Regions from separate parts of the Homo sapiens genome. Here region 1 is linked to region 2. Evidence: fine-mapped expression QTL. A gene starts in region 2. The other region holds a variant in brackets. All regions are shown on one strand. Distances are from middle to middle.

Region 1 (5,380 bases), 30 kb before region 2:
TCTATAGTCCCTTTGAAATCATGTATGGCCAAACTTTTGTCTTGGGGCCTCCACCCTTACCAGACTCTGAGCCACTCAGGAATTATTCCCCTTCTTAATCCAGACATGGTCTTTCATTCGTGAAGCAGCAAATGAGGCCATGCCTCTCCCTGTTGACACCTCCTTGTCCTCTCAACATAACTGTTTTGCAGGCACAGACACCTTTCCAGACAATCCAGATGATGCTCCTGCTACAATGACATGGTGGATACCAACCTGTCTCTCAAGAATAGCCCCAAAATTAAGTTTTTCTTTTTCCAAGGTGCCCATGCCACCCCATGTCACACCTGAAGTGGTTATTGAGAAAGTCGTCCTTTTTCCATAACCAAATAGACAGCAATGTAAAATTCTCCCCAGGGCCTGAAAGCTTAAGGAGATGAGCTCCCCACTTCTCAGGCTCAGTCCCAAGGCACAAGGCTACTTGTGCTAGTGGGGTGCACCAGCAAGATAGCAGAAGCAGGAAGAGAGCCGGCCGGAAGACACATACCCCTGAAGACGGAGAAAGAGGCCATCCAGATATAACATAGCAGTTACATCAGACTAGGACACTTCCTGTTTACAGGAGACTATAAAACCTTTGCACCATCCTCACTTAAGGCTGATGCCACTTTAGGCCTCAGCCCTCCTGCTTCCAGGCGCTCATTAAAACAGCATGTTGCTCCACACTGCCTCGTGTTGTCTGTTGGTATGTTCTTGGGGTTCGAGCCGATACAAAAACCTTACAAGGGGATAGCCTCAGAAAGAAGAGGGACAGGCTGAGGTAGAAGCAGAACAGGTGGCAATAACTGCCCCTGGTGACAGGAATGCTGGGGACAGGACATGAAAGAGACTCCAGGTTCCATGTAAACATCCCCTGCTGTGCTGGGTCCCTGCACAGCACACTCACTCCCCTCAACCCTCATTGCCTTTGCAGCTCACTGCGGGACAGCGGAGGATGGACCCCAGTCCCACCACAGGCACAGGACTAGAGGACATTGAAAATCTTAATAGGGGTACTGTTAAACTCAGTAGTCATATTGCATAGGATTCAAATAATAACATAATATGGTTAAAAATAATATTTTCCTGTAGTAGTTTATAAATTAAACTGAAGCCAACATCCATGATGAGTAAAAATTACAAAATTTAAACCCAGTCAGGTGCCACCCTGCTTTGCAGGACTCCTCTCCCTGGCTGGCTCTGGCCCAGGCCCTGCACATCTCGGGGAGGCCCAGAGACAGCGCAGAGAAGCCTGACATGGCCAGCAGGGCTCAGCGTGGATGGGAGGACTGGAGTGAAAGCAGGTCCTCTGAGTGAAACCCTGCCTCACATCCCAGAGCCTGAGGACTCCAGAGAGAGTCGACGGGGGAGGTGGTGGGATGGGGACAGGGAAACACTCTTCAGAGAGAGTACCAAGGCTTAGAGGTCAGACTGAGGAAACAAATGCTTCACAGAGTCCTCAACCCATGACCATGAGTTCTTTAATAAGTAAGTGTGTGTGTGTGTGTATGTAAAATATGTGAGGCCCTCTAACGCCTCTTTTCTACGGTAGAACAAAGAGAAACTTCAGTTTTTGCCATCAATTTATTAAAATAAACATGTATAGCAGGTTTCAACAATTGTCTTGTAGTTTGTAGTAAAAAGACATAAGAAAGAGAAGGTGTGGTTTGCAGCAATCCGTAGTTGGTTTCTCACCATACCCTGCAGTTCTGTGAGCCAAAGGTCTTGCAGAAAGTTAAAATAAATCACAAAGACTGCTGTCATATATTAATTGCTAGAAAGCAAAAACAGAGACATCACTTAGATTTTCTGCACTCTCTAACAAAATAAAATCTTGAAAAACAGAAGCTTATCTTTTTCCACGGTTTGCCCACAACCATCTAGCATCCCAGACGGTTAGGGCTGGAAGTAGAAGAGCTGTTGTTTCTGGATCATTTCCCCCACCATGGACTTTTTAAATATTTTTTCTGTGTGTTTGTGGTTCTTTGAAATAATGTATTCAACAAATACGTGACTATATTACCTATTTTCACAGGATTGTTAAAATCTTAGCTCAAATGCAAAAAAAAAAAAAAAAAAAAAAGTGAAACTTTGAGCTCTCGTCTAACCCTCCATTGTGGAAATATTCCCAGCATCCCAGCAGTCCGACGCCCTCTGCCACCACCATTGTGCTCTACTAATTATTGGAGCTGCAGACTATGATCTGTCTGAGGAAGCTTTTAAAGAAACAAATCCATCACCCTTCCCTGCAGTTGATAATTAGTTTTTAACAAATTATTAATAGTGGTAAAATGTACATCTCATAAAATTTGCCATTTTAAGGGGACAGTTCGGAGTGTTCTGTATATTCGTGTGGTTGTGCAACCTAACTCCAGAATATTACTGTTTTGCACAACTGAAACTCCAGACCCATTAAATATGACTCCCCCTTCTTCTCTGCACCCAAGCCCTGACAACCACTGTTTTTTTTTTTT[TC/C]ACTGTCTCTGAGTCTGGCTCCCCAGATTCCCATATGCATGGGTCATGCAGCATTTGTGTTTTTGTGACTCTTTGCTTCACTCTTCACTCGCTATAATATCCTCAAGGTTCATCCATGTTGTAGAAAGCGTCAGGGTTTCCTGAGGTGATGTTCACTTTCATCCTAATGGAGGGGTTTGGTATATTTCTAACTTTTTTTTTTTTTTTTTTTTTACCAGGGAAGGATTAAAGAAGAATTTAACATAGGGAATAAATGCTAAAGAAAACCCTCAACAATATACATGTATAGTTAGAAAGAAATACAAAACTATTGGTTTTTGTTTGAGGCAATTCTTCCTCCATGGTGGTTTCATACCCATGATCTACAGTTGCCTATTGGATAGTCCAAGGTTTCTCATCATTTATGCTAGCAAATTATGATTGCCTGGAAGTGCATTTTAAATTCTTTTTATTTGAGATGTATAGAATCTTGCTCAAATGGTATTTTCCAAACTGTTGAAAAATAGGGCATTTTTTAAGAAAGAACACTTTTACTTTTTTTTGAAGAAGAGAAGTTTTCTCTGCAGATTGGTCTATAGGTGCGGGTCTTCTGGAAAATTGTTTTTTCTGTAGAGAGTGAACATATGTTTGTATGTGTGTGTCTGAGTGTGTTTGTGTGTGTCTCTGTGTTTCTGTGGTTGTGTGGTTCTGTCTGTGTGTTTGTGTTTGTGTCTGGATGATTGTGTGCTGGTGTGATTGTGTCTGTGTCTGTGTCTGTGTCTTTGCCTGTCTGTCTATGTTTGTGTATGTCTGAATGTGTGTGTGTTTGTGTGATTGTGACTGTGTCTGTGTGTTTGCATGTGTCTGGATGTGTGTATGTGTGTTTCTGTGTTTGTGTGATTGTGTCTGTGTTTGTGAGCATGAATTAGAGAGCTCTGGGGATAGGTAAGACTTCTACCGACCTTTCCTTTTCCTCTCTTGCCCTATTCATTTATCATCCACTGAGGATTCTCTGGGTAGAGTGACAACACAGGGACACTGGATGTTTTTCTTGATGGCAAAGTCATTAGACTAACCATTCAACTAAATTAACCAATGTAAGAAAAGGCTTGTTCACTAGTGGCTTTGGCATTGTCAGTGAGAAATGAAGAGCCCACTTGTCCCTGGTCAGGGGATTTAAAAAGCTTATAGGAAGAAAATGAAATTACCATAAACACCTCAACATTGCTCAGAGTTTCATCCGTTTGGTTAAGAAAACATTCCTTCAATTCATCTATGGCATTTGTAGTGGCATTGTCGTCTATGAACTCTTGAAGAAGTTCTTTGTATTCAGTCTTAGACACTTGTGGATTGATTGTCTTGGAAATCACATTCTCCAATAAGGGGCAGCCAGAGCCTGGGAAGGATGCACAAGGAAACAAGCTTGGTACAGAAGGCATGAAAGGCTTGGGGCAGACCTATTACATTCCTCATCTTCTTACAGCCCAAGAGAATATAGACTCAAAGATAATGATGCAGAATCTAGAGTTCTCAAATCTGGGAGAAAACCTCAGGCTCTGGGATTTCCTGTAAGCCCTGCAACTTCTTTCTCTCCACTCCCCAGCCCAGAAAAGCTAAACCTCATGAAACTTCATTTAATGAGAAGACTTGAGAAATGAAACACTCGGACTTGGAAGTATATCGTGAAGATTATTTGGTCTTCTTTGGTTCAAAATCATACGATGCTTCACTATTACCATTCAGAGCATCACAGAAGATTTCCAAGTATCTTAGGCCAAGTGTGGTGGCTCACACCTATAATCCCAGCACTTTGGGAGGCCGAGGTGGACAGACTGCCTGAGCTCAGGAGTTCAAGACCAGCCTGGGCAACATGGTGAGATCTGTTATACCTACAGCCTTTGTACTGGGGCTGATCTCTGCTGAGAATTGGGGAGCAGGAGTTCTTCCATAGAGGCCCAAGTGACAACCCCTAACCCCGAGGCAGCCCTCCCTGCACAGAACTCACCTGCGTAGCAGTGCTGGGAGAGGGCCGCCAGCATGAGGACCATCAGCAACTTCATGGTGAGGCTGCTGCTGTCGGTGTTCAGTCGCGGGTGGCAAGGATCAAGGAAGCCGCTGTGGAGGTGAGCACCCAGCCTTGCTCTATTTATTCCCCAGGTAGGCATCTTAATTCCACCCATGAACGAGGCAATGAGTCAACCTGGCATGGGACCAGTAAACAGGAGCATGCCCCAGGGGAAACACAGCCAGCCTGTATGTAGAATCTTCCTGCTTCTCTTCCTCTTTCTTGTATTCCTTCTCCACTTGCTCCCCTTCCTTTTCTTCTCTGTCTCTTTCTTTAAGGTGAGAATGAAAGCATCATGTCCCGTGTATCTGTGCCAGCTTATCCCAGCAGTGGGCCTAGGTGCAATACCTCACACCTACTCTTGGGAGCAGGCTTTTCTCATCCACTGACATCTCATTTTCAGAAAGGGATGTCTGGGAAAGTTTTACCTTTTGTGGGGAAATTTAAGGCCATCCACCCTCCGCTGAAAGTTATTTTTACAAGGATTATCTCGGTTAATTATAAATTAATTGATAACTTTGTTTAGTTCTTTGGTAACTTTTTAGGGTTTTCTTTCCACTGATTCAAAGGATGCTGTGAATTAGTAGCGTAACTGATGGGCTGGACAGGCAGTGCTGGGTGGTGGGTGGTGATGGAATTTGGAATCAGGGATGAGGGTTTGGACCCTGGATGCAACTTGCAGTCCTGCCATGTCCTTGCTGGTCTCTCTGAGCATCCTTCCTTTTCATCACTTGAAGAAAATAAAAGGCGGAATGGGATAGCATGCAGAATTTGTATAAGGATGCTTCATGTAAAGATTGTTTCATGGCCGGTCGCAATGGCTCATGCCTGTAATCCCAGCAC
Region 2 (5,380 bases):
ACTCAGTTTGGGAAACTGAGGCCTAGACCTGGTGGCCTCACAGCACCCATGCCGGTGATGGAGCAGCCTTTTCTTGCCAGGCCAATAGCCCTGGGGTGATCCGGGAATGAGGCCCAGGATCCTCATGGAAGCAAGTGACGAGGGTTGGAGAGAGCAGCAAGAGGTTATTGCCTGGGCTGTCCCAGGGCTTGGAGTCTCCTGGTTCCTGCAGTGAGGGACCCAGGACTGAGAGGCTGGTCAGGGCTGAGAGGGCTTCTGGGAAGCTTGGCTTCCAGGAGACTCCAGCCTCCCCATGTGGGAATTCTGCCTCAGGGCCCGAGCACCTCTCAGTCCCGAGCCTGCAGCTTCCATGAGCATTTGCAGCTAAACCTCAGGACAGCAACTCAGAGGCAGCCAGGCAGAGAGGCCCCTGGAAAACCTCTGATTTCTTGAGAAAGACAGAGTGAGAACATCCCGCTTCCATGGCACTGCAGGAGGTAGACTAGCTAGGGTCTTGGACGACTGGCCATGGTCAGGAGAGTGTCGTGGGTGTGGAGGGGAGTATGGGGTCTCAGGAGCTGGGAGGGGCTCCTTCCTGGCTCTGCAGAAGCTGCAGAGAAGTCCAGCCTGCCAGTGCTACATCTGCAGGAGCCCCTGCTCTATGTCCCTCCCTGCCTTCCTCTCCCTGTTCAAGGCTCCCATGCTCCCCAGGACATTCCACAGTGACTGTGTCCATTACATGAGGGCAGTTTGGTCTCAGGAAAGCTCCCAGCAGCGAGGCGGCCATGCTTGGCCCTTTACCATTTCTGCCTGGGCCCAGGCTCACTCCCCATGTCCTCAGCACACTCTGGGGACATGGCATCCAGGCAGGTGACATGAGAAGGAGGAACATGCAGGAGGCTGTGTGCAGCTGAGTTGAATTCTGCAGGTGAAATGGTGGCACCCACCCTGTGGCCCCAGGTGACCTTCTCAAGAGGTGACCAGCAAGGCAGCTGCCCCACCACCTGTGTCCCCAACAGAGCAGCAAGCTGACCTCACTTCATACTGTGCAGCTGACCAGAAGCCTTAACAAATAAAGGAGAAAGAAGTTACCAGGACTTCCGCAATGAGGCTTCGTTTCTGAAGGGACATCTGATCCGTGCATCTCTTCACTCCTAACTTGGCTGCAACAGCTTCCGGAGGGGCATCAAATTTGGCAAGACTTAACTTGAACAGAGGTTCACTAATGAAGAAGAAGTCTAACAGCTCAGAAACAAGAGCTGGGCAGAACTCGGCATTGGCTGCAGCAAAAGAATAAAAATATAGTTGATGTTAGGAAAGTCGATTTTTCTCTTTGGCTCCCTGACGTTAGACCAGACAGGATCCCCTGGGTTATATGTTCACATACATTTGTTGTGCTGATGACAATGCCAGACCCTTCAGGTGTGACTTCCTCAAGCTCTCACAATAAAGGAAAGCACTTCATATCAACAGCCAAACTCTTTTTTTTCCCTTTGTCACCCAGGCTGGAATTCAGTAGCTCAATCATGGCTCACTGCAGCCTCTACCTCCTGGGCTCAAGCGATATCCCCATCTCAGCCCCCTAAGTAGCTGAGACTACTGGTGCATGTCACCACGTCCAGCTGATTTTTCATATTTCTTTTGGTAAAGCTGGAGTTTCGCCACGTTGCCTAGGCCGGACTCAAACTCCTGAGCTCAAGCAATTCACTCTCCTTGACCTTCCAAAGTGCTAGGATTACAGGCATGAGCCGCCATGCTTAGCCCACAGCTAGACTCTTTTGACAGTATTAATCTTTCTTACTCCATTCTCATAGCCTCTCCTGGCAGAAGCGCTAACTACCAGTGATAGGAGGAGGCTCAGGGAGGGTGAGCATTGTGCCCAAGGTCAAAGGGCTGGGAAGTGGCGGATCCCAGATTCACCCCAGACCTCACATTACATCATCTGACACAGATCCCACCCAGGAGTGAAGCTCAGGCAGAAGAATTCCTAATATTTGCCTGCACTGATTTTCAATAAAACTTCGTAGGTGCTGGGGAGTAGAAGAAATAGCTCTGAACTTGATGAGGGGCTTGTTCAACAAGCACAGAAAAAGGTTTGGAATTTTGGTTTTGTGCAGATCCTAACCCCAGCCTGAATAGGTGACCTCGTGCTTGGAAGAGGGTGCTTCCCAGGGGCTGGAGCTAGACTCATGACTGATGTACTCACCCTGGTAGCAGCAGAGGGCCAGCGTGACCAGCAGGAGACACACCGACAGCTTCATGGTGGCTTGTTTTGCTGTGAGCTCAGCTTTCACAAACAATGAGTGATTTGGACTCCACCCCAGGAGCCTGTGGAGCTGCAGAGCCCAGGGCTATTTGTACCTAGGGAGTCTAGCTGGTACTGGTCATGAGGCCTGGCTCCCAGCCCACCTCTCCTTCCCAGGGCTGTTGCCATCCATCTGTGTCACCTCCCCACGCCTCCCTGCACTCTGACTGGGGCAGAGCACAGGAGGGTAGCCCTGCAGGAACTCTGCTCTGTGTTCCAGGTGAATGTTCAGGCACCTCTGGAAATATTCCTGGGATTCTGTTTCCTTCTGAGTTTTGCTGATTATTTTTTTTCTTTGTATCAGTTCAAGGGCACAGGTAAATTCTGACTTTGGAAGGCACAGGAAGCTGGAAGGCTGTGTTCTGGTTATGGGGGAGCAGGGACATAAGGAAACCCTGCTTTGATCCCCCTGCATGTCTGACAACCAGTAGGCTTGTTTCAGTTGCACATTGAGCAAGTCTAAACAAGACCTATTCCCCTCAGCCCCTCCCATCACCACCATGTTCACTGCATAGGTACCTAAAACCTAGTTCAATGCATCTTACCTTTGGAGGATTTCCTGGGGAAAAGCAACTGCTGCACCTGTTCTCTAGCCTGTCTCACTCCCAAACCTGAGTCTTGTTTATGAGTGCAGCTATAAATATGGCCAAGACTCACATTTTCTCTCTACGAGGAGCAAGCTTTCTGTGATGTGTAGCCACCCACATGTTGATGGGTTGACCTGATGATTACATAGCCTAACTTTTTCCAAGTAGCTTTTGGAGTGTCCAGAGCCAATCATGCATCGGACAGGTACTGAGAGTTCTTTGCTCTGGGGCTCCAGGAGGGGAAGAAGATGGAAAAGAAGAGACAGATGATCAGGGTGAGTGGTCACTTCCCCCCAACCTCTAGGCTCAAGTTTTCCACTTCAAATCTAGCTGTGCAGCCTGAGCCAATCCCATTTTTAATAGAAAGGGAAGGAAGCACCCAGACAAAGCAATACACACCCTCCTGCCCTCCTGCTGTGATGCCTTTGTGTGGTGTGAGCAGGAAATCAATCACTAGAAATTTCTCTCTCTTTTTTGTTATTATACTTTAAGTTTTAGGGTACGTGTGCACAACGTGCAGGTTAGCTACATATGTATACATGTGCCATGTTGGTGTGCTGCACCAATTAACTCATCATTTAACATTAGGTATATCTCCTAATGCTATCCCTCCCCCCTCCCCCCACCCCACAACAGTCCCTGGTGTGTGCTGTTCCCCTTCCTGTGTCCATGTGTTCTCATTGTTCAATTCCCACCTATGAGTGAGAACACGCGGTGTTTGTTTTTTTGTCCTTGCGATAGTTTGCTGAGAATGATGGTTTCCAGCTTCATCCATGTCCCTACAAAGGACATGAACTCATCATTTTTTATGGCTGCATAGTATTCCGTGGTGTATATGTGCCACATTTTTTTAATCCAGTCTATCATTGTTGGACATTTGGGTTGGTTCCAAGACTTTGCTATTGTGAATAGTGCTGCAATAAACATACGTGTGCATGCGTCTTTATAGCAGCATGATTTATAATCCTTTGGGTATATACCCAGTAATGGGATCGCTGGGTCAAATGGTATTTCTAGTTCAAGGTCCCTGAGGAATCGCCACACTGACTTCCACAATGGTTGAACTAGTTTACATAATCATGTGATTTTTTCATTGGTTCTGTTTATATGCTGGATTACATTTATTGATTTACGTATGTTGAACCAACCTTGCATCCCAGGGATGAAGCCCAATTGATCATGGTGGATAAGTTTAATGCCCACAAGAGAAAGCAGGAAAAATCTAAAATTGACACCCTAACATCACAATTAAAAGAACTAGAGAAGCAAGAGCAAACATATTCAAAAGCTAGCAGAAGGCATTGAATAACTAAGATCAGAGCAGAACTGAAGGAGATAGAGACACAAAAAACCCTTCAAAAAATCAACGAATCCAGGAGCTGGTTTTTTGAAAAGAGCAACAAAATTGATAGACCACTAGCAAGACTAATAAAGAAAAAAAGAGAGAAGAATCAAATAGATACAATAAAAAATGATAAAGGGGATATCACCACCGATCCCATAGAAATACAAACTACCGTCAGAGAATACTATAAACACCTCTATGCAAATAAACTAGAAAATCTAGAAGAAATGGATAAATTCCTCGACACATACACCCTCCCAAGACTAAACCAGGAAGAAGTTGAATCTCTGAATAGACCAATAACAGGCTCTGAAATTGAGGCAATAATTAATAGCCTACCAACCAAAAAAAGTCCAGGACCAGATGGATTCACAGCCGAATTCTACCAGAGGTCCAAGGAGGAGCTGGTACCATTCCTTCTGAAACTATTCTAATCAATAGAAAAAGAGGGAATCCTCCCTAACTCAATTTATGAGGCCAGCACCATCCTGATACCAAAGACTGGCAGAGACACAACAAAAAAAGAGAATTATAGACCAATATCCCTGATGAACATCGATGCAAAAATCCCCAATAAAATACTGGCAAACCGAATCCAGCAACACATCAAGAAATTTCTCTCTTAAATGAACTTACTTTTGAGAGGATTCACAGCCTAGGCCCGAGCTTTCCATTCGCAGCTGCGCAATCGAATCACTTGGAGCTTTTAAAATATACTGACTCCCCAGGTTTCTCTCTCTGGGGATTTTGATTCAGTAGCGTTGGGTTGACTCCCTGATTCCTACACTGTTTAAACTGCTCTGGTGTTTCTGATGGGCAGGAGGGCTGAAAACCACACAGAAAGACATGTATGTAAAGAGGGGACCTTATGGGCTGTGTCATCAGAGACAACTTGGCAGGTTTGTTTGAGCCCCAGCTGAGGGCAACAGTGGCTGTCACTTCCATCACACAGGATCATGAGGAAATCCCTGAGCCAGCTCTTCCGCCACCACCAAGGAGTGGGAGGGCCAGTGGTGAGGCTCACAGATACAAGGCTCACAGATACAGCCTCATTTGTGGGCTCTTGGACCTTAAGAAAATTATTCAGCTTATGTAACCTCAGTTTTCCTATTTGTCAAAGTAGGCTAGTAATTGTGCCTACATCATTGGGTTCATAGATGATCA

Which allele goes with the higher level. Alleles are on the strand shown, and positions count from the first base shown. SD is a standard deviation of normalised expression in the study named.
In carriers of allele TC in region 1, the expression in skin of the gene that starts at base 2,309 in region 2 tends to be lower than with C alone (small effect, 0.33 SD a copy in TwinsUK).

The links. PIP is the estimated chance that this variant, and not a neighbour inherited with it, causes the effect. A credible set is the group of variants that fine-mapping cannot tell apart.
Region 1: its variant is the best candidate, but not a certain one, in a credible set for the expression of SCGB1D2 in skin (TwinsUK, PIP 0.54).

The regions. Positions count from the first base shown.
Region 1 is chr11:62,269,369-62,274,748 of GRCh38, reverse strand. It overlaps SCGB2A2 (secretoglobin family 2A member 2), which reads right to left and starts at 4,591. Exons shown (of 3, transcript NM_002411.4): 1 at 4,478-4,591; 2 at 3,681-3,868; 3 at 1,589-1,792. The coding sequence starts at 4,532. The coding sequence ends at 1,754. The variant TC/C (reference allele first, on the strand shown) is at 2,493.
Region 2 is chr11:62,239,168-62,244,547 of GRCh38, reverse strand. SCGB1D2 (secretoglobin family 1D member 2) reads right to left here and starts at 2,309. Exons shown (of 3, transcript NM_006551.4): 1 at 2,186-2,309; 2 at 1,072-1,259. The coding sequence starts at 2,240.